Regions from separate parts of the Homo sapiens genome. Here region 2 is linked to region 1. The links come from fine-mapping of genetic effects on gene expression. A gene starts in region 1. The other region holds a variant in brackets. All regions are shown on one strand. Distances are between the middles of the regions. Region 1 holds the start of CPA3 (carboxypeptidase A3). Region 2 holds the start of LOC107986045 (a long non-coding RNA gene).

Region 1 (8,464 bases):
TTTTTTTTAAGGACTTCAGGTCTATCAAGTTAAAAAGGATGGGCAGATCTTTTGGTTAATTTTTTTCTTCCACAATTTTGGGATTGAATGGGATCACAATTCATCTAGCCACAGAATCTGCCTCTAATTGGAAATTTAAGTTAAATATCTGGTTAGTTAGTCCTCAAAACCTGATGTCCCTATAAACTCTGGAAATCCTGATACAAGATATTGTATCAAACAGTTGGCATAGACCCCCAGCAAAGTCATTTTTCTAGCAATATGTCCTTGGGCAAGTTACTAGGACTCTTTAAATTTTACTCCTCTCTCCTGAAATAATGGGGCAAATGAGGGTCCACTGGGAAGTGTTGTGAAGATTGTGAAATAGGTCTGAGGTCTGGGGCATGAAGACAGTTAACAGGTGCAGATTTTTTTTTCCTTTCTCTTCCTCTAGCTGACAATTTCAAAAATTTGGTATATGAGCTCAGAAGTATAGCATTCAGATCAAAATAATTTCGAGGCTGGGTGTTGTGGCTCACGACTGTAATCCCAGCACTTTGGAAGGCTGAGGTGCGGATCACCTGAGGTCGGGAGTTCGAGACCAGCCTGACCAACATGGAGAAACCCCACTTCTATTAAAAATAGAGAATTAGCCAGGCATGGTGGCACATGCCTGTAATCTCAGCTACTCGGGAGGCTGATGCAGGAGAATTGCTTGAACCTGGGAGGTGGAGGTTGCAGTGAGCCGAGATCTCGCTATTGCACTCCAGCCTGGGCAACAAGAGCAAAACTCTGTCTCAGAAAAAACACAAAAAACAAAAACAAAAGCAAACATTGAAAAGATTCCAGTTCTTGTGGTTCTTCAAAATCATACTCAATTGTGAAACTAAATGAAGTACAAGTCCCCAGCCTGGGAAATGTGAAGGAAAAGCTCAATTTCCACCCCTGCTTGTGTATGTGTTCAGGTCTGCCTGGCTGTTTCTTGGTTGAGTCCCCCTCTACCTCGAGGTCAATCAAGTGACAATATGAGGCTGCTATGAACCAACCAATGTTTATTTTGATCAAAAAGCTACATCATGAGTTGGACATATGAGAGATGTAGTGTGATGCAAAGGCAAGTTAGGCAGAGCCATCTTATCACAATAGACATTTCTGTGTTCTAGCAGGGTAATGTGCAGCAGGAGCTTAGAGCTTAGTGAACTTTCATGTATTAAGCAGGAGGCAAAGAGCTGGGTGCCACAGTTGTAGAGACTAATAAGGGACTTATGAGATGTGAAAGGTTTGGTGTGGAACACAGAGTCATACATGCATGTTTCCCACATGTTAACCAATGCCAGAGGAAGGAACCGGGTATTCCAGGAGCACAAGGAGCAGCCAAAACTGAGTCACGAGAGTTGATGAACAGAAGAGACGTCCTGCAGGAGACACTGCCTGAGTTGGATCTTGAGAAATAAGTAGGACTTACCCAGGTCAAAAGGGAGAGAAACACATTTTCATGAGAAAAGATGTACAGGGCCAAGGTGGGTGAGATTTTGGTGTTTATGGGGCTTGAAGGGTGTGGAAGAAGGTGGAGGAGCAGGATATTGAAGAGGCTGGTAGTTTGGCAGATCATAAAACGCTTTGAATGCTATACCAATACCAAAAGAAAATGCTTCTGACTGGGCATGGTGGCTCATGCCTGTAATCCCAGCATTTTGGGAGGCTGAGGCGGGTGGATCACTTGAGGTCAGGAGTTTGAGACCAGCTGGGCAACATGGCAAAACCCCGTCTTCACTAAAAACACAAAAATTAGCCGGGGATGGTGGTGGGCACCTGTAATCCCAGCTAATAGGGAGGCTGAGGCAGGTGAATCGCTTGAACCTGGGAGTCGGAGGCTGCAGAGATTGTGCCACTGCACTCCAGCCTGGGTGACAGAGTGAGACTCTGTCTCAAAACAAAAACAATAACAAACAAAAAACGCTTCTATGGTGCTTAATATGGCAGGCCTGCTTCTAAGTGCTATCAAACGCTTACTTAGTCTTTGTAGCAACCCTAGGAAGTAGCTATGACTATTATCCCCATTTTATAGCAGAAGAAATTGAGACCCAGAGATGTTGAGTAAGTTGCCTAAGGCTACAGAGCTAGCGTAGAGCTTGGATTTGAATGTAAGCGTTTGACTTTGAAGAAAATGCTTTTTCCGTACTAGGCTGCTTCTTAGTAATGACCCTCAAACGGAGGAATGCAATTGTCAAGTTTTAGAGTGAGCAATCAGGTTGCAATGCAGAGTTGGCTTTGTGGGAGTCAAGACTAGAGCCCTGATTGCTAGTTAAGGGACTATGGAAATTCTCCTTGCAAGAGGTAGAGTGAACATGAACTTGGCAGTGGCAGTGGAATGGAGGGCAATGTGTGGATTTGAGAAACATTTGGGAGTTAGAATAGGCAGGGCCTTTGATTGATTTGATGTAGAGGTAACTGTATGTTTGACTGGAATAAATCCCAGACCCAGTTCTGGGTTTAAATTTGATGTGTAATCTTGGTCATTTAATTTATTGTCTTTGCACTTTAGCTCTTCTGTTTCAAATGAGTTACATTATAACCCTGACATTGAGAATCTGCTGGAGAATTTGAAATGGCATATATAAGGTGGCTGGTGCAACATAAATAGGAGCAGCTGAATACATGATAAAATTATATTAGGCTGTTGGATTTTAAAGGATTGATCTAACTTTAAAAGTCTTATTTGAAAATGTACCTGCTCTTGGAAAGGGTCACATCTTGATATTAGCCAGTGCCTCAACGTTTTCAGTTAGTACTCAAGAGAAATTATGGCACCAGAGGAGATGAGGGTCGGAGTGGGGAGAATGGAGAGGGAATGGCACCCGTAGGCAAGAGAAAGATGCCCTGATAAGGAGGCCAAGAACAGCTCCTGATTTCATAGTTTTACCTTGAAAAAGCTGGTGTTTGAAAAGCTTTTGGGAGGAAAAACAGAAGTGGTAGTCTTGGAAACCAAGACCAAAACCAGAACAGGTGAAGTATTGGCCATTGGCTGAATTATCCAGATAGCTCCTGCTTTCCCCTTATGTTCAATAGTCTTTTGTAGTCCCATGGGCATTGACAGTAAAATAAGAAGAAGCATCTTTTAGAGAACAGTAAGAAAAGATAAAATATCCCTCTAAATGCTTACCTCATTGGTTTTGGCCAAGTCCTTTATGATGTCTGCTTGTTTTTCATCCTGGGGCTTCACGCGGAACACCTTCTCCCTTTGTGGAGGCAAATGAAAAAAAAAAAGTGAACTGTAAGGAAACAACCTTTAATTCTCTTCTACACAGAGACTGGAACACAGGAAGTAAGATTTACCTGTCAAAGCGGACAGGAGCAATTGCAAGAGTGGTAGCAATCAAACCCACAGGCAGGATGAGCCTCATGGTTCTTCTTTGCCTGCCTTGAGACCCTCTGGCAGTTTTATGCCTCAGCCCTTATCTTGATGAGCAGCTGATTTCCTCTTAGGGTTCTGTTGCACAAACTGTTCCCCTTCTTCCCCCACACCAGGTTTTTTTTTTCCAGCTGGAGAGGGAAAAACACTAACCCACCAAGCACATGCTACTTATCTACCTTTTGCAATAGGAAATACCCATTTTACAGATACAGGATGGGAAGCAAATGCCTTTAGCAAATAACTTGGCCAAGGTAACAGAGAAAGTATGTTCACAGAGCTGGGATTTACTAGTTCTATCTGTTCTAAAATACTACTCTACCATTCTGCTTGAATTGAATGATGGAAGAAATTAGTTTTAAAATTTGCACTTGGAGACTGAGATGAATTTGGGTATCTGGCCATAAAATCTTGGTGAGTGGTTCGTAATAATGTAAAATATATTTTTGAAGCTAGAATGTAAGTTGTGAAATTAAAAACATTTAAATTGACTGGGCACGGTGGCTCACGCCTGTAATCCCAGCAGTTTGGGAGGCCGCGGCGGGTGGATCATCTGAGGTCAGGAGTTCAAGACCAGCCTGGCCAACGTGGTGAAACCCTGTCTCTACTAAAAAATACAAAAATTAGCCGGGCGTGGCGGCAGGTGCCTTAATCCCAGCTACTTGGGAGGCAAAAAAAACCCCAAAAATTTAAATTACAAAATATAAATGTACTAAAAATGCTGTAAGTACTATGGCGAACATTGAAATGTTCACCATTTAGATTTTACAATGATAACATTTTTGTTATATTTTTCCTGTACTTCTCTGGGTAAAGAAATAAACACTAAAGACCTAAAGCACTGCCCTAACTCTTTGCCCTTCTCTTCTCTCTGTCCTCAGAGGTGACCCCTATTTCTAAGGCAACTTGAGAACTACCTGACAGCAAGAAAATATCAATGCTGTAATGTTTATTAATTGGACACTGTCTTCAGAGCCTGGATGCTGTAATTGCCAAATAATGCCTTTTGAGAGTTGAATTAATGAAAGCCACCTATAGACCATTCACAACCATCTCTGGAGGGATGTTTAGTCTTGAACACAACTTGGTTAATTATGGGAGAATAACACCTTTACCTAGAATCATAGGTAACCTAAAAGAGTAAGTGAATTTATCTAATCAGTTAACTTATTAGAATTTCCTTTTTGAAAACCACCTCTTCACATTGACAAACGTATAGCTGACTGTAGATAAAACTTCTCAGAGTCACGCTTATGTACTATCAAAATAGTGTGGTTGGAGACACGCCCCTGTTATATATACAGCAGCAGTAATTCCATTCTTCTCTATCTGATGGGTGTGTGGTAGAACTCGGGACTTTTTTTTATTTCCCCAAATGGATTTTCCGGCTCCAGCCTTGCAGGTAAGGAAGAGGAGGGTTTTACAAATGCCTTCATGTTCTTGACACTGGGCAAGCTCACCAGCACTGAGAACTCCCAAAGCAAATGCTTGCTCCATTGCTTTTGACTAAAGATACTTTTGACCAGGGAACAGTGAAAAAGAAAGACCTTGACTTTGGGTTTCGACAGACATCACTTCAATGTGGCTCCCACACGCTAGCTACATCCCCTTGAGCAGGCTGCCTAGTTATTCTGGGCCTTGGTTTCCTCATTTGTAAAATGGGAATGCTAATGTGACTCTAACAAGTGGCTGTGAGGCTTAGTGAGACAGGATATGTTAGGGACTTCGTGGTAGGTGCTAAAAAACACGTCCATGCTCTCTAGACAGTTGATAAAATGTTCATGTGCTGTCAACAGAGACTTCCAGTGGGCCACTGCCAGCCTGCAGAACCGGTATCAAAATAGATCATGTGGTAGATTAAAGTGGTGGCCGTGACCTTTAGGGATAAAATATGTCTCTGTATTTGTTTTCATGTGGACTACTTCAATAATTTTTTTTAATGTTATAGCTTTGCTTTTTAGAGTTTTATTTTCTGATTCTAAAAATTATAAATGCCCATTGAAAATGATTCTGGAAAATACAGGAAAGGTGAAAGAGGAAAAATAGAAATCCTCTTAATTTTAGAATTCTGTTATATTTTCTTGAAGCTGTTTCCTCTGTGACTGGTTTTAAAATTGTGTGGAGAAAGCTTCTATGTCTGTTTTTCAGGTCAAGTAGGAAGAACACTTTTATTTTATTTGGGGAATCTAGGTGAGTGCTTTGAGGACTTTGGTATTTCTCAGGATAAGACTTTGTTAATAAATAAAAGTACATCTTTGGCTTCTTAATAGATTACATATTGGCAATTTCTTCTTTCTGGAATATGATATAAACATGTGATGTGTTTGAGACTCCCACTGCCTCTCCAATCTATTTAGCCTCTGAAGAAAAATACAATAGATGGATTTCAATAATGTTCTAGAGCTTTTTCTCAGAACAAGCGCTATTTCTTGGCAAGCATAGATCAGTGCTGCCTTATATTACTGCATCAAGATTTATAAAAGGTCTTGGCATATGTGTGGGTAGGATGAATAATTGTCAAACCCCGTATCATTTTAGGATTGACTATGTAAGACTGTGATGTTTCACAGATTAAATCAACCTCTTTAAAAAGTGACTTAGAGGTGAATACTTCATGCAGCCATAATTTTCCATCTTTCTTGAGCTCTGCACTTTCTATGGTATTTGTAGTAGTGCACGTCTAGCCATGATTTAAAATATCACCATATAGTTTAGCTATGCTTTTCTCTATATATTTTTAATCATTATCACTCAGCAGAACCCTTTTTGCCCCCAAATTAACATGTTAACTTGCTATGGTCTGCCTTCTTTTCCTTCTAGAAATTCTCTCTTTGACCAATTCATATAGGTCAGCTTGCAGAATAAGATGAACAAATGGCATATGATTCTAGGTATGTAGGAATTCCATAATCCAGATGAGAAAATCAGTCTTGCTATTTTCTACCCACACCACTTGAGAAAGAAAGATTCAGGGGCTACTCTTGTGCTGTTGGTTCACTGTTGCTTTGGGAGCTGAGAGCTTGGAGCTGAAGGAAAGGCTCAGAGCCTGCTCTGGGATCTCAGGGTGGGAGTGGGATAAAAGAGGGAGAAGAAGAGGTATCCCCCCAACCTGGGGCTCTCAGGTGGGCAAGGCTGGGTGGACTCACAGCAGTCTCTGATTAGCTGGTCAGATACTACTACAGTGAAGACTAAGGCAGATTTCTCTTTCTGTTTTTCTTGGTTTTGCCCAGGCAAGTGGAAATTCTACCCAGCTTCCTGTTAACTTTCAGTAGACAGTGGTCATAGTAAAAATTTCTCAGGTGCAGGACATCTCAGATACATGGGATTTCAAATAAGAATATTTGCATATTTGCTTTCCTATTCTTTGTTCTTACCCTTAAAAATTCCTTGGAATTTTAAAAAAGCAGTCCACATATATTATTCCTAATTTCTATTTTAAAGCATTCAATTTAGGGAATTAGGAGAGTTCTTTGTGGTTTGCCAAGATTTCCATACTTTGGGCCACAGCTTCCCTTAGTCAGGGGTTGGTGTTACTTGCCAGAGATAGCAAGGGAGTATCCTGTGGAACAGGAGTTTAATGATACACCTCCAGCAAGATTACCTCACTCAGGTAACTATGGCTATGTTAGCCCTCCAATACACAAAGTGGATATAACTTAAAGAGTAGGAGGAAGAATATTTAGCTAAATTACATCTATTTTTAAATTACCACCAATGTTGCTGACAAATTAATGGGATTTTTTTTTTTCACATATGGTTCTCTGTCTATTTAAATGATGTATTACTAAATGAGTTTGAAGATGAGTGTGTGACACATTGTAGCAGCTGCACTGCTACCACCTAGTGGACAATTAATGCAATTAATTATTCTTTGGCTTGACAACTTTCACAAACCGTTGTTACTTCAATGGATTCTCTTTATGAATAGAACACTGTTATAGATATTTTAGCACATCATGCCCTCCCTATATGGAGTCTCATTTTTCTTGAAGCCATATAGAAAGTAATAAGTTAAGAGTCTATGAAAGTAGACTACAGAAAGTCTATAGAAAGTAATGAGTTAATAGTCTATCATTTTTAAGTAAGAGATGCCCCCAAATCGTAACTTTAATACATCTCATTCTATTTTAAAATTTGAACTTGGCACAATACTTCCCAACACAGCATGTCCAATTCCAATCCCGGAAAACATCAAGTTCTGGAGTGATTTTTGCCACTTTCATTGGTCCAAGTGGTCCAGTCAGGGTCCCTGGTATCCTCTTGTCTCACTTCTGATCTGCTTTCCACACCCTAGCCTAGTTGGTGTTCCAAAAACACTGTAACCATGTCATTGATGACTTAATATCTTCAATGGATTTTCATTGTTCTTAGACCAGTGTCCCCAGTCCTTAACGTGACCTCTAAGCTCTGCCTGACATGGTTCCTACCACCCTCCCCAGCCTGTACACATGCTCCTCTTTCCTCAGCTCTCCAAATTTCACCCTCACTGGCTTTCTTCTTATACTTTTGGGATAGCCACAGGCCTGGAAGCGGTGCTCCCTTTGTCTAGCTAACTGTGACTTATTTCTCAGGTTACAGCAGTTTCTGAGGGAGGCTTCTCCCGTACATCAAGCAGGTAGACTTTTTGTATGTTCTTTTTGTGTAGTTCATCCAGCACTTATTTGATTAATGTAAATTAGATTACTAATTAATAAATTGTTAATTAATGAGTTAATTATTTGTGTAATGTCTGTCTTTCCAAAGGGCCTATACACCCATTAAGGGCAGAAATGTTATCTTTCTTTTTCATTGTTCCATCTTCAATTGCTTAGCAAAGTGCATGGCATGTAGTAGACAGCCGATAAAATAACTTTAATGAGCTGAGATGAAAGCTAGACCAAGAAAGATGGTGTCTTTTCATGTATGCCAGGTTTAACAGTCCTAAATTTCCCTTTACATTTCTTCTTAGCTCACAAGCCTCCCACTATAATCAGTGCATCTACACCCTGATGGTCTCAGCCAGCACCCCAGGATGTTAACTCCTATACAGCTGACCGGATCCTCACTGTGCACGGCTTGCTTAGTCATTCATTC
Region 2 (12,988 bases), 73 kb before region 1:
TTTGTCATGTTTTTTGCTATATCACTCCAACCACAGAGGTAGGGATGACATTTGTCATGTTTTTGTTATATGACATTTGTTATATGACATGTTTTTGTTACATGACATTTGTCATGTTCTTGTTATATCATTCCAACACTCCAACCACAGAGGTAGGGACGATTTTTCTGTGTGACAGTTAATATTTTATGGAGGTTGGTCTGGATTCTGGACCACACTGTTGGCTATATGTATTCTTTTCCAGTAGAGGGCAGCAGATGACAGAATGATGAGTCATTAAGATGAACTGTGTTGACAGCTTTCTGGGAGACATGTGAGAAATGGTAGAGGCATAGTTGGCTGGGTGTCATAGTGACTCAGTCATTCAGAAAGCCATATGGTTTATTTGTATTTGTGCAAATTAACAACAGAATGTTTCCCTTTCCTCCAAACTATGGGGATGCAGAAAATTAACTTCTGCCCCATTGTTAGGAATTTCCAAAGATTCCAGTGACACAAATGTAAACACTTAGGAATAGAACTTGTACCAAATAAGAGTTATTTTATAAGACTTGTATACTTTGCACTATATTTCCTTGGAGGTTCTGATTAACTAAATTTGAGGTAGGGCCTCAAGTAAAGTCGACATATCAAACATAGATAAACCATTCTTGCCTTAAAATACATAAAATATGAAAGTCAGATAAAAGGGTACAAATTGTATATACAATTAAAGGGTTGTAAAGGAGCGGTGATTAGTAAAGAAAATACTCAGGAAACAAATTTGACTTTGAGAAAGGATTTAAAGAAAGAAATGCCAGCAGTTTAGAGGAGGGACCTGACAAGATTGAAAACTGGTGCCCACTGAATCCAAGTGAATCCAGGCTGCACAAGGATTCTTTTTTTTTTTTTTTTTCTGGAGACAGGCTGTCACTCTGTCACTCAGGCTGTAGTGCAGTGGCTCATTCATAGCTCAATGCAGCCTGAAACTCCTGGGCTCAAGCAGCCCTCCTGAGTAGCTACTCAAGGCTCAATCTACTGAGTAGCTAGGACTACAGTTGTGTGCCACCATGCCCAGCTAATTTTTTTATTTTCTAATTTTGTAGAGACAGGGTCTCATTATGTTGGCCAGGCTGGTCTCAAACTCCTGGCCTCAAGCTATCTTGCTGCCCTGTCCTCTCAAAGTGCTCGGATTACAGATGTGAGCCACTGCATCCAGTTCTGTACAAGTATTCTATTTGGTCAGCAGAATGCTTTATATTTTTTAAAATTTGTATTTCTGTAGATGGGGCATGCACCTTCTAGTTTGCTACCCTCCTCACCATTCCCTATCATCATACACCTGGCACTTTACACATTTCTCTTTATCTTCCTAGCTCCTGAAGCCATTTGTGACTACAACTTCTGGCTTAGAGGAACTAAGGAGGTGGGTACCAGAGGGAGGAGGCAGTCATCTAGGAGCAGGTAAATCACCTGTAGAGGGTGTGTGGGGTTTATATAAACTGGATTACTCAGCCCAAGGGGCCATGTTGGAAAATAGGTAATAAGGAATTGAAGAAGTAGACAGTGGTGGTGATTTGAAGAGTAGTTTAAACCTTGTACTGCCACACTCCAGGATGAGAAAACCAGAAAGTCCTAGAAGAAAATGAAAGAACTCACCCAGAAAAAGTGCTAGAAAATCTGTTTCTGTTTAATATGTGCTTTCTCTATGGGTTTTGATGACTAGAATTGCTCTGCTGAAAAGTAACAGCAAGTGCCAGAGTCAAACATGATTGACATGTGTGAGTGCTGCCCCTCACTGTCACTCCAGAGCTCCCCACTTACCTGTGTGTCCCAGAAAAGTTAAAGGCTTGAGAGAATCAGCTCCCCACATCCATGACATGGGTCTCTCCTTGTACAATATTTAAAAATATATATTATGTATATATATGTTTTAAAAGTTTGATTTTGCTCTGTCACCCAGGCTATAGTGCGTTACAGCGGTCACAGCTCACTGTAGCCTTGAACTACTGGGCTCAAGGGATCTTTCTGCCTCAGCTTCCTGAGTAGCTAAGACTACAGGTGTGCACCACCATGCTTTAAAACTTTTTAGGAAAAAGGGTTGCCCAGGCTAGTTTTAAACTCCTGGCCTCAAGGGATCCTCCTGCCTCAGCCTCCCCAGTTGCTAGGATTATAGGTGTGAGGCACATGCCTGGCCCTTGCACAACTTTGAGAGCACTATGAAGTGCTAGCATACTGCCCCAGAGTCAGTGGTGGTCCTGGTGCCGACATTGACTCAATGGCTCACTAGAGCCACAGCCATTTAATCTATTGCTCCTTAGTTTTCTCATCATAATTTAGAGGATTGCACAAAGCTGTGTGAGAAGACCCCTTTAGCATTAGCTGCCTATGATTCAAACTCAGAAAAGAAAGGCCAAGGCCCAAGCTGTGAATCAAGCATGTGTGCTCTTGAGAAGAGTATTAGGCACATTGCATATGGGAGGAAAAAATGAGGAGGGGTGAACAGGGGCAAAGAGTGTGAAGTCTAAGAACATTAGACATAGGCTCCAATTCTAATTCCAGCTTTTCCTAGCTGAGTGACCATATAACTTCTCTGAGCCTCAATTTCTTTTGCAAAATGGAGACATTGGTATGTGTCTGGCTGGACTCTTTGGAAAATTAAATGAGATAGTGTTTTTAAGTGTCTGGCACATCTTCACTGCTATCCTCGTCCTCAACCTCACCACATGTAGAAGTTAGTCTTGTGAATATCCCAAACTTCTGTCTGGAAGAGGCCCTCTAAATGAGAAGTCTCAAGGACACAGCATCGAGATTTCATCTCTAGGAGAACCATGGACAGCATCTGTGCTGACAGTTCTTTGATTAACTCAGTTAAAACTTGGAATGGCTAATCTGCTGTTTTCAGGCAGTTTTGATTGCCACAGCATTTTGCTGTTGCACCGTCATCAAAAGAATCAAAGGAAGAATTGTGTTTAGGATCCAGAGGCTGCTTCTGGAGAATGTGGGGAAAATGCTGACAGCTCACTGTGATGATTTGCTGGGGACCGAAGAAGAAAGACGTTCAGACCAAGAAATGGCTCTGCCTACCTGCCTCTGAGGCCTGCAGCTCTTCACTGGAACCTTGTTGCTTTGACATGAGGCATCTTGTCCTCCCCAGAGTCCTTTTTCCATCTCCAGCAGAAGCCGTGTTTTTCCGCACACCTGAGGGATAAGACATGTCTCCCTAAGAGAGGCCTGGTATAGAGCAGTTGCCTGTAGGGAAGGAAGAAAGTTGAGTGGGAAAAGGGATGGTTCTGGGTGACTGAAGAAAACCCCAGGAGGTGTCTCTGTGACATTATCTTTTCCTCTAGAAAACCATTTTCTGAATCTAACCTAATAATAAAGTAATCCAATCAATAACTAAGTAGAAAGGCACATCATGTTAGACTTTCCGTCATCCTTAAGTACAAATCTGTTTTGGAAAGAACTTCGGAGATTTATTTTTAGGGAATGAGATCACTAAAGGTGGTTTCATAGTTTCACAGGATAACACAAAATTTCTTTTATTGATTTTTTTTTTTTTTTGACATGGAGCCTCACTGTGTCATCCAGGCTGGAGTACAGTGATGCGATCACAGTTCACTACAGCCTTGAACTCCCTGGCTCAGGTGATCCTCCTCCTTCAACCTTTTGAGTAGCCAGAACCACAGGCGTGCACCACTATGTCTGACTAACTTTTTGTGAAGATGGGGTTTCGCTATGTTGCCTAGGCTGGTCTTGAACTCGGGCTCAAGCGATCCGCCTGCCTTGGCCTCCCAAAGTACTGGGACTACAAGGTGTGAGCCACTGTGCCTGGCAACTTTTTTTTTTTTTGAATCAAAACGAGGCCCAGGAATTACTGATTAACTTCTAAAATTCTTGGTGGCTTGCTTAAAACTCAGCCATAGATGCCTAAGGACAAAAGAGGCTTGATTGTGGGAGGTGAGAATAAGGCTTGGGATAAAGTGGGCAGTGGTTAAGGAGTTGGAGATTCAGAAGGGAAAGGAGACGCTGCAACTGGTTTTTAGCTGGAAGTGAGAGAAAGAGCACAGATTCCTGCAAGGGCAGAGGAGCACTTGTGGGACTGGGTGGCAGGGCCCAGATTAGGGTGAGGCAAGTGAGACACCCAGGTGCTAAATTCAAGGAGGCACCCACAGTCAGGGCGCGTGAGTGCAGGGGTGGCACCTGAGAGTGAGTGCCTCCTTCAGTGTGGCATCACAGATGCTCGAGTTGTTCATCCTAGTCCAGGCTCTGAGAGTACAGTAAGATGGAGCAACATTTTGTTTTTCCAAGACAGTTTCAAACTTTCCTCCTATTTTGGTTACCCAGAGGTTCTGATAAAAATCGAAATAGCACAACTTTGGGAAAGAAATTCTCCTATGAGTATAGGGCTTATTCTATAGTAAAAATATGGCTCACGACTTACCAAGATGTACACATTTGTGGTTTAAGGTAAAAAAGTGAAAAAAAAATCATCCTCCAAATTAGTGTCTGTTTATATCCCGGTGTGTGGATGGAGAACTAAGATTTTTTCCTCTTTCTCTCTTTTCCTCTACCTTTCTTCTTTTCTCTTTCAACTCTTTCCTTCTATTCTGTCTCCCCTTCTCCTTCCGGCCCAGTTTGACACCACTGAAGTGCCTGCCCTTCTCTTTTTCTTCCTCCTTCCTTTGCTTCCGTTGCTTATAACAGATTCGGAGGGGGAAAAAAAGAATCAAATATCTGTTTCACAGCCATTTCATAAACAATACTGGCTCTTTTCTTTTGGTACCACTAGGCAATGAAAAGCACTGTAGGAGGACATTTGTGACAGTATAGTGATGAATTCATGACGAGTCGGCAGCGTCGACTTGAAACAGGTCCACTGTGTTTCTCTACATTTAGCCAAGACCAAACCAGAATGAATGCCTATGGGTGCTCAGCTGGATGCATGAAACAAAGAGGTTTTCTATTTTGTGATGAAAGGAAAATAATTTGAGGGGGAAAAAAAAAACCCTCTACTCAAACCAGAAGTTTAGTTTGTGTTTGTTTCAGCCAAACTACTTCAAGCCCTGTCATATTTCTGCGGACCTCAATTGTTGCAGAAATGTTTTCAAAGCCTTTCAGGTTTTGTTAAATCTCTCCAGAAGTTAATTGAAAAATGGAGTTACTAACACAGCTTTTCCAACATTGGATCGTAGTCAATCTTTTTCAACAACTTTTCAACAGCTTGAATTTTTGAGCTAATTTCCTTTTTTCAAAATTATGTTTTGAAGTAGATACATCTCATGTGAAATACATTTTCAGAAATCTATTTGAAAAATTGATAAGCATTAAAAATTTCTAGCCTGCCACAATAGGAGGAAAGATGAACATGGCTTATGTTATTCTCCTGTTTCTTGTTTAAACATTTCATGATAAAGAATATGTAACATATTGCATAAAGATAGGAAAACAAACTTCAGCCAGAACTGAGGGCTGGTGTGTGGTTTTGTGGGATGTACACTGCACAACACTGGGAACTGTTCCATATTAGCGCCAGTGTATATTTGTATATTTATTAAAATAATTTCTTGGTGAGTGGCTTGGAAATGTCTTGGAGAAGGGGCTTTCCCACCCCACCCCACCCCGTTAATTTGCAGAAAGGCATCATTTGGGAAGGCAGTGGCTCTGAATCTGAGTTAATATTTATAAGTTTTATTTTTGCTCCTGTACTCCTAGGTTTGGATTGGTTGTATCCTGTTGTGCTTGGGACCTTTCTCCCAATTTGCCGATCATTCCAAATGAAACAACAAACAAACAAATCAAAAAACAAAACATGGAACGAACGATTTTGCATTCTTCAGTTCCTCTGATTTCCATTTTCTTTGTCCTGAGCCTAATGTTTCTTGCTGGGTTCCTTTTCCTAGTTCTTTCTTTATGCCAGATGCTGCTCGAAGTGTGTATGTGTGCCAACTCATTAAGTCCTATGTTCTTAGCCATTTTTTAAGGATGAGGATACTAAGGCTCAGAGAGGGCTGCTTACATAGCTGGTCTGTGATGGAATCAGGATTCCAATCCAGGTAATGCAGCACCAAAGTTCCTAATTTGGGTCAATTCCTCAAGCCCTTGTCCCCTCCAATCTCAACTTTCTCTCACTTTCTCCTGACCACAGCAGAGGTCCCGCATGCCTTCTGGTGGACCCTACTCTCCTTGTGACAGATGAGGACAGGAGGGGGCAATTGCCGTTGCGGGTTGTGTGACTCCAGGGCCATGGCATGCTGCTGAAGCCAGAGGTTCTTTCTTTCCTCCCCCATCCACTTTCTCAAACCTTCAGCCTCACTTTGGCAGGCTCCTCCCTTTCAAGAAACTTATCTTTATATCTTCGGGATTTTACGTGCTAGCCCAATATTTGTGGTACATAGATGGGATTTCTTTATGTTTACTCATTCTCTGCTATGTTCCAGAAATAATGTAAAAGGGGGTCTCATGTATAAGCAAAATAAATTCAAAATGATGAGACAAAATAAGTGGATGAAGAGGGCAGGGCAGAAGGAAAATGAATTTGAAAAGGTCAGACGAAATCATGTACAAGTTTGGTCAACACTACATGTGCCCAGCACATTTGCTGGTGACAGGGAGGGATCTGGGTGGGTGGAGTGGGGTGGGGCCATGTGGAGGGAGAGAGTAGGAAAAATAATGTAACCCAGGAGCACTACTCATGGCTGGATTGACTGGGGGATAGATTTTAGAATATCTAATGTGGTATTTTCCAAAGAATATCTAATGTTGTGTTTTCCAAACCATGTTCTAAGTATTACCAGTTCTATGGAACTTAATAGAAAATAAGAGAACAGTGGGGTGATGGTCATGGTTTGTGGTTTGATGTTTCTTTACTGAGAGATTAAAAAAAAAAACTCATGTACATTGTAAGCCTCTAGGAAGGGGATGGGGCTACAATTATTTCTAGACATTTTGACCATGAGGATCTTTCTTTTGGAAACTTAGAGGACTACTGTATTCGGAAGAGACATTGGGGAAAGGAGTATAGGTGGATAAGAAATGCTTGTCTAAAGAAGTTATCCTAAAAGGGAAGATCAGTAATTTTAAGTATATAAAGGGTAAAAATGTATACACAGAAAAAATATTATAGAAAAAATCAAGGAGAAATGACTGAGAAAGGATGACAGATAAAAGGCTAATTTTTAATATAGAAAAAGTTCTTACAAATCAATTTTTAACATCACCAACCCACCAGAAAAATGGACAAAGGACATGAACAGGTAAAAACAAATACAAATAGTTTATAGACATGTGGAAAATATTTATGCTCACTCACAAATGGAAAAATACAAATTAAGTTTAAAAATGAGGCACTGCTTTTTTACCTACCAGAGCAGCAAAGCCTCAGGAGTTTCATAATATGCTGCATCGGCCAGGGTGTGGGTAAGCAGGAAGCCTCCAT[G/A]TCTGGTGGGAAGATAAATTGGTGTAACCCCTTTGGGGGCACTTTGGCAACCTCTATCACATACATTCAAAATACGGTACAGCTAGACTCTGACCATATTTTTGCACCTCTTCCACTGCCTTCCAGGTCTGAGCCAAGACCTCTCTCACCTGGATTGCTACCCTGGTCTCCTCTCCTGTCTCCCTCCTATCACCTTTGTCCCCAACATCTACTCTCAACACACAGTCACAGAAAGTGTGTTAAAAGCTAGATCATGTTTCATGTTTTGCTCAAATTCTTCCATTGGCTTCCCATCTCACTGAGAGCAAGAGCCAAAATTCCTATATTGGGCTGCAAGGCCCTACCTAACTTGGCCCCAGCACCAATTTGATCTTATCTCTTATTCTGTTCTGGTTCCTTCTGCTCCAGCCACAGTGGCCCCCTTGCTTTTCTTTGAATTTGTCAGCGATCCTTCCATCTTAGAGCCTTTGGACTCAATGTTCCCTCTGCCTAAAACAGGCTTTCCTAGTTATCTGTAGGGCCACATTCCTCACCTCCTCCAGGTCTTTGCTGAAATGTTGCTTTCTCAGTGCAGCCTTTCCTGATCACTCAATTTAAAATCACAACTTCCTGCTTCCATTCCCTCTTACTCTTCTCATTCATCTCTACAGCTATTATCATCTTCTCACGTACTATATGACTGACTTATTTATTGTGTTTTTATCTGTTCCTTACCATGAGAATATAAGCTCCACAAGGGTAGATATTTATTTTTTTGTTTTGTTCATTGATGCACCACTGAACAGTGTCTGGCAAGCTGTCAAATATTTATTTATAAATATGTTTCTCAATATTTATTGACTTTTTATTGAATGGAATTGACCCAGAAATTCCACTTCTAGGAATTTACTTGATGATACACTTATGCATGTGTACAAAGTGACATGAATATTGTTTATTGTGGCAAAACACTGAGCAGTTATCTCAAGATATTGAGCATTACCTGAGGGTACAAATTAAATGAAGACATTGGATAAAGTTTCAAACCAGATAGGACTAAAAGTTGATTTGTGTCCCACTATTTAGAAGGTAGGGGCTGAAGTTGAAGACTAAATCAGTTATAGTCCAAACAAACTACATTTTCTTTTCACCTCTGATTAAAAAATGTGAAATATATACTTGTGTGTGAAGTTGGACTTTTCCTATTGCCTTCGAATTGGTGACCAAGACTCAAGGTTGAGAACAAAGAGGTATTCAGTCCCCACATGCTGAAAGATCCTTTCGATTGCCTTTCAGGTGTCTGACAATTAAGGTCAGACACTTCCGTTTGGGCTTACCAAGAGCAACCATCACCTCTGCTCCCACTTGCTTATATAAAAAGATTAGAGAATAGGTCCAGTCATCAAGGCTCTGTCTTCCAAGAAATACAGAAGGGGCTTCAGAAGACTCACTTGTGGTGATTGGGCCTCCTGTAAGAAGTGGGGTGAGTCTGGCATTTTTCTCTCCTGGCTAGATGGCATTTCTATCTGAAGGCTCACTATGGTATTGCCAAATTGGACTGAAGTTTACCTCTTGGGAATGGTTAACAGGCGTTCCAGGGATTGGAGGCAATCTGAACCCAGGGATTACTTCTTATGTAGAGATTCTTGCAAGCAGGAGGCCTGAAGGAGTCATTTATTGCAGAGAAGTAAGAAGGGATGTGGGGGTAACTTGTATGGGAAAAGGAATAGAACAACCCCATCTGCAGCTCCTCATGTCCTTTGGAAAAACGGAAGATTCATTTACAGGGTATTGGATCTAAATGTAAAAGAGCATGAGGGAGAGTTCTGAGTACACGGAATGAGATTGTCCAAGCAGCCTCTTGTCCTAGCGGGTATATAGGGGCTGGGGAATATACTAGTTAGCTAGAGCTGCCATAACAAACTACCGCAGACTGGGTAACTTAAACAAAATACATTTATTTTCTCACAGCTATGGAGGCTACAAGTCCAAGACCAAGGTGTCAGCATGTTGGTTTCTTCAGAGGCCTGTCTCCTTGGCTTGCTGATGGCTCCCTTCTTGCTGTGTCCTCACATGGTCTTTCCTCTGGGTTCCTACAGCCTTCATGTCTTTGTGTGTCCAGATTTTCTCTTTGGAAAGGATCAGTCAGGCCAGTCAGATTGGATTGAGGCCCACCCTAACTCACTGAATCACCTACATAAAAGTCCTATCTCCAAATATAGTCACATTCTGAGATACTAGATTTCAGGGGTTCAACACAGGAATTTTGGGAGGACACAGTTCAGCCCATAACAGGCTCCTAGTCTTTTAGTGAGTCTGCCACTTTCTGAGCTGCCTTCTAACAGCAAGAGGAAGGCATGGTGGAGTTGAGCACCATTCCAAGCAAATCATCCCACATATGAAGAGACCTCTCCATTAGCAGAGGCTACCAGTAGCAGGTAGAACAAGATTGAGCCAGAGGAATACTAGAGGAGCCTCCCAAGCACCCACTGGTTACCAATGACCCAAGAGCATCTCTTCTTCTCCTATTTCTCCTGCATCCCCAGCTCTCAATCTGAAATGCCTGATCCAGAAAACAAACAAACAAACAAACAAACAAACAACCCAGACTCTCTCCTTCTTCCTCTACCCAATGAATGAGATCAGCCTCTTCCTAACTCCAAGTCATGTGAGGCAATCCCAGGAAAGATCCACTGGGAAGAAGAGAGGAGATGAAATTTAAACTGGATATGAGGTGGGAGTTCTAAATCAAAATAAGGTGAATTTAACTGAAAGTGCCAAAGAAGTTATAGGATCTGCCTAAGAAGTTACGTAGAAAAGTTTTTTTTTTCAGAGCTCAGATGAATATAGGGATTGAAAAAATAAAGCTATGTCAATTTAAACTTCACCAAATTGATATTTCTCAATAAATTGAATATCTGTTTCTTTCTATGGATATGGAACCATATCTTGGAAAACACCACAAGCTGTTTTTAGGAATTATCTCTAGGGAAGGGGAAGTTATGGACCAGAATTGGTGTAAGAAGAAAATGTGCTTTCATTTTAAACCCTTTGAACTTAAAAAAAAATTACCATGTAGATGTATTACTTTAAAAATACTCAAGCAGTTTAAAACTAAAGTAATTAAAACAGTATGATACTAATGGAGAATGCTGTTAAGAAGCAACCCTGAAAAACGTCAACTCTAAGTTGAAGGAGTTTCTTACCAGTGGGAAAAATAATTGTTGTAGGTTGAACCAGGGAAACACGTAATAGGAAGAAGCTAGAATTTCCTGGGTTTGAGATGGAAACCTGTTCTATAAATGTAGAGGAAGACCTGTAAAAGGAGTGGGAGAAACCAGAGACTTGGAATGTAAGAAACCATTGTGAGCCGCTGATGCTGTTGCTTGAAGGGAGATAAATGTTGTGACAGATGTCTGCAAAGCTTTTGGCAAGGAATGGGGTTCCATTTGGTATGGTGCATTTCAAGGTTAAGCTCTTCTGTGTCATGTAGATGTGGCAGGTTTTTGGCTTAGTGCTGAACCATGGGGTTTGGGATTTATATAATTGTAGAAAGCATTAAGTCAAGAGGCAATGCAGAATAGTTTGGCTAGTGACATTTTATGTAATTCCTCATGCATATGTTTAGGCCGTAGAAATCACCCCTAAAATACCAGGAAAGGATTCAAGAAAAATGGGAAGAAGAGTAAGAGGTCATTATAGTCTATGCATGTGTTAAATTTATGTATGGGTTGTTCATTTCCCCGTACATGATTAATTCTATTCTTGAGAGTGTTGAGTAAATTAAAATAATAAAACCATCACAAAGGGATTCTCTGTGTGCAGACAGTGACTTGAGAGGGAGTTATAACTCTATCATCTTCCTGGAACTGAATTAGACTAGGAAGAAAGGAGTTCTGATGAAATGAAGTGTAAAACAGGACAGCAGCCTGGATGCAATGAAGGTGGCTAATGCACACTAATACCTGCCACAGTTGTTTTCTCTAATATTTGAAAAGATGAAGGGGGAAAGTTATAAAATGCTAATAAAATCAGTCAAAAATGCAGTCTTTGCCTAATTTTAAAAGGAGTCTTTGCTGTTGAGGAGTACACTCCAAGAAATCTACCAGAGCTAAGAAGTGTCACTGTTGGCTTTATCCTGATGCTTTTCACTCATTTGAGCCTCTGGTTCTGAGATCAGGCCAGTGATGTTGCAAAAAGGGCATTTCTGCAAGGAAGGACTCACATATCAGCTCCCTTTGGCCCATACAGACTCCATTTCCATTGGATTTTAACATTTTAAGGTTAAAGGAATACCTGATGCTTTTTTGTTGTTTTTTAAAGCCTAGATGGTGTGACATGTCAAGAAGCTATTTTGTTACACTTAACAATGTTTTGGCTGTTTGGTAAGACTTACAGTTCTGGAAAGTTTTTGTTTTTGGAGAATCATCCCCAAAAATGCTAGAGCACCCGCTATGGGAAGCTGGAGAAGAGGCTGCTGTAAAAGAGGAAAGAAACAAGGTCTCCAGCTTGCCCTCTCATGTTGTAGGCTTATTTGACAATTCCGAGGTCAAGAATCCTGAGGAGCATTTTAAAGACAATAGAAAAGGATGTTAGATTTAGTAGATATTGGTTTTCTTTTGCTTACCCGCCATACTTTCTCTCATTTTGAGGAGCCTCCCTCCTCTAATAATCAAGTTGCTTTGGCTGAGGCTGCCTCACCCTCTGTTCTGGGAGAAGACACTTGACATAGGTCTGAGTCAGTTAATAAACTCTACCTGGTCACATTGGTTGCTTCTGGCTTCAAGTGAATCCTTGTTTCTTGGGTAGGACTGACCCGGAAGGAGAAGTGCCTCTCTCTTTTGAGGAACTTGAATGAGAAAGGAGGTAGTAGGTTGGAACTCTGCCGCCCTGTTGGTAGTGCTGGTGAGCCTCTCTAGAATGCGGCATTACAGAGGAAGCATGGAGAGAACGGGATCCTGATGAGTTTTCAAAACTTTTAATTCAGCCATGTCTAAAACCAAGCCTACAAGATGACATTTTCAGTAATGTGAGTTAATATATTCTACCCCTCTAACCCTTTATTTTGTTCAGCCGTTTTGAGTGAGGGCTGTCTTCATGGAAGTGTTCCTACTTGTTACTGTAAAGTATTATGAGGCGATTACAACAAAAATTTGAGATGCAGAATAAATTAAAAGGGAAAATATCTAAACATGATGATTAAATCTCAATAAAGACAAATGATTGGGCACTAAAATTATAGATAAAATAAGTAATTTGAAATAAAGATACAAAGAATCATAAGTTAAAAATATAATAGTAAGAGAGATAAAAGATTAACATAAAAGACTAAAATCCATGATATAAAAGTTGAAAACACAAAAGTAGAGAGAATTAAGGACTAAGAAAAGGAATTGAAAACAATAAAGGTAAAACAATATTAAAAAGTTCAGAAGAATAAAATGGATTTGGAGAAATATCTTAAAAAGAAAATGAAAACAAAATCTTAAAAATTAGAAAAAGAGGTAAAAGAAAACCAGTACAAAGTGAGTCAGTCAGAATCCACACAAAGTTCAAGGGATGATTAAAAAAATTCCGTTGATGGGATGTCAT

Evidence for each region. PIP is the estimated chance that this variant, and not a neighbour inherited with it, causes the effect.
Region 2: its variant is fine-mapped to the expression of CPA3 in whole blood (INTERVAL, PIP above 0.99).

What each region holds. Positions count from the first base shown.
Region 1 is chr3:148,860,227-148,868,690 of GRCh38, reverse strand. It overlaps CPA3 (carboxypeptidase A3), which reads right to left and starts at 3,395. Exons shown (of 11, transcript NM_001870.4): 1 at 3,316-3,395; 2 at 3,143-3,218. The coding sequence starts at 3,383.
Region 2 is chr3:148,931,012-148,943,999 of GRCh38, reverse strand. LOC107986045 (a long non-coding RNA gene) reads right to left here and starts at 7,421. Exons shown (of 3, transcript XR_001740565.2): 1 at 7,345-7,421; 2 at 3,067-3,180. The variant G/A (reference allele first, on the strand shown) is at 7,418.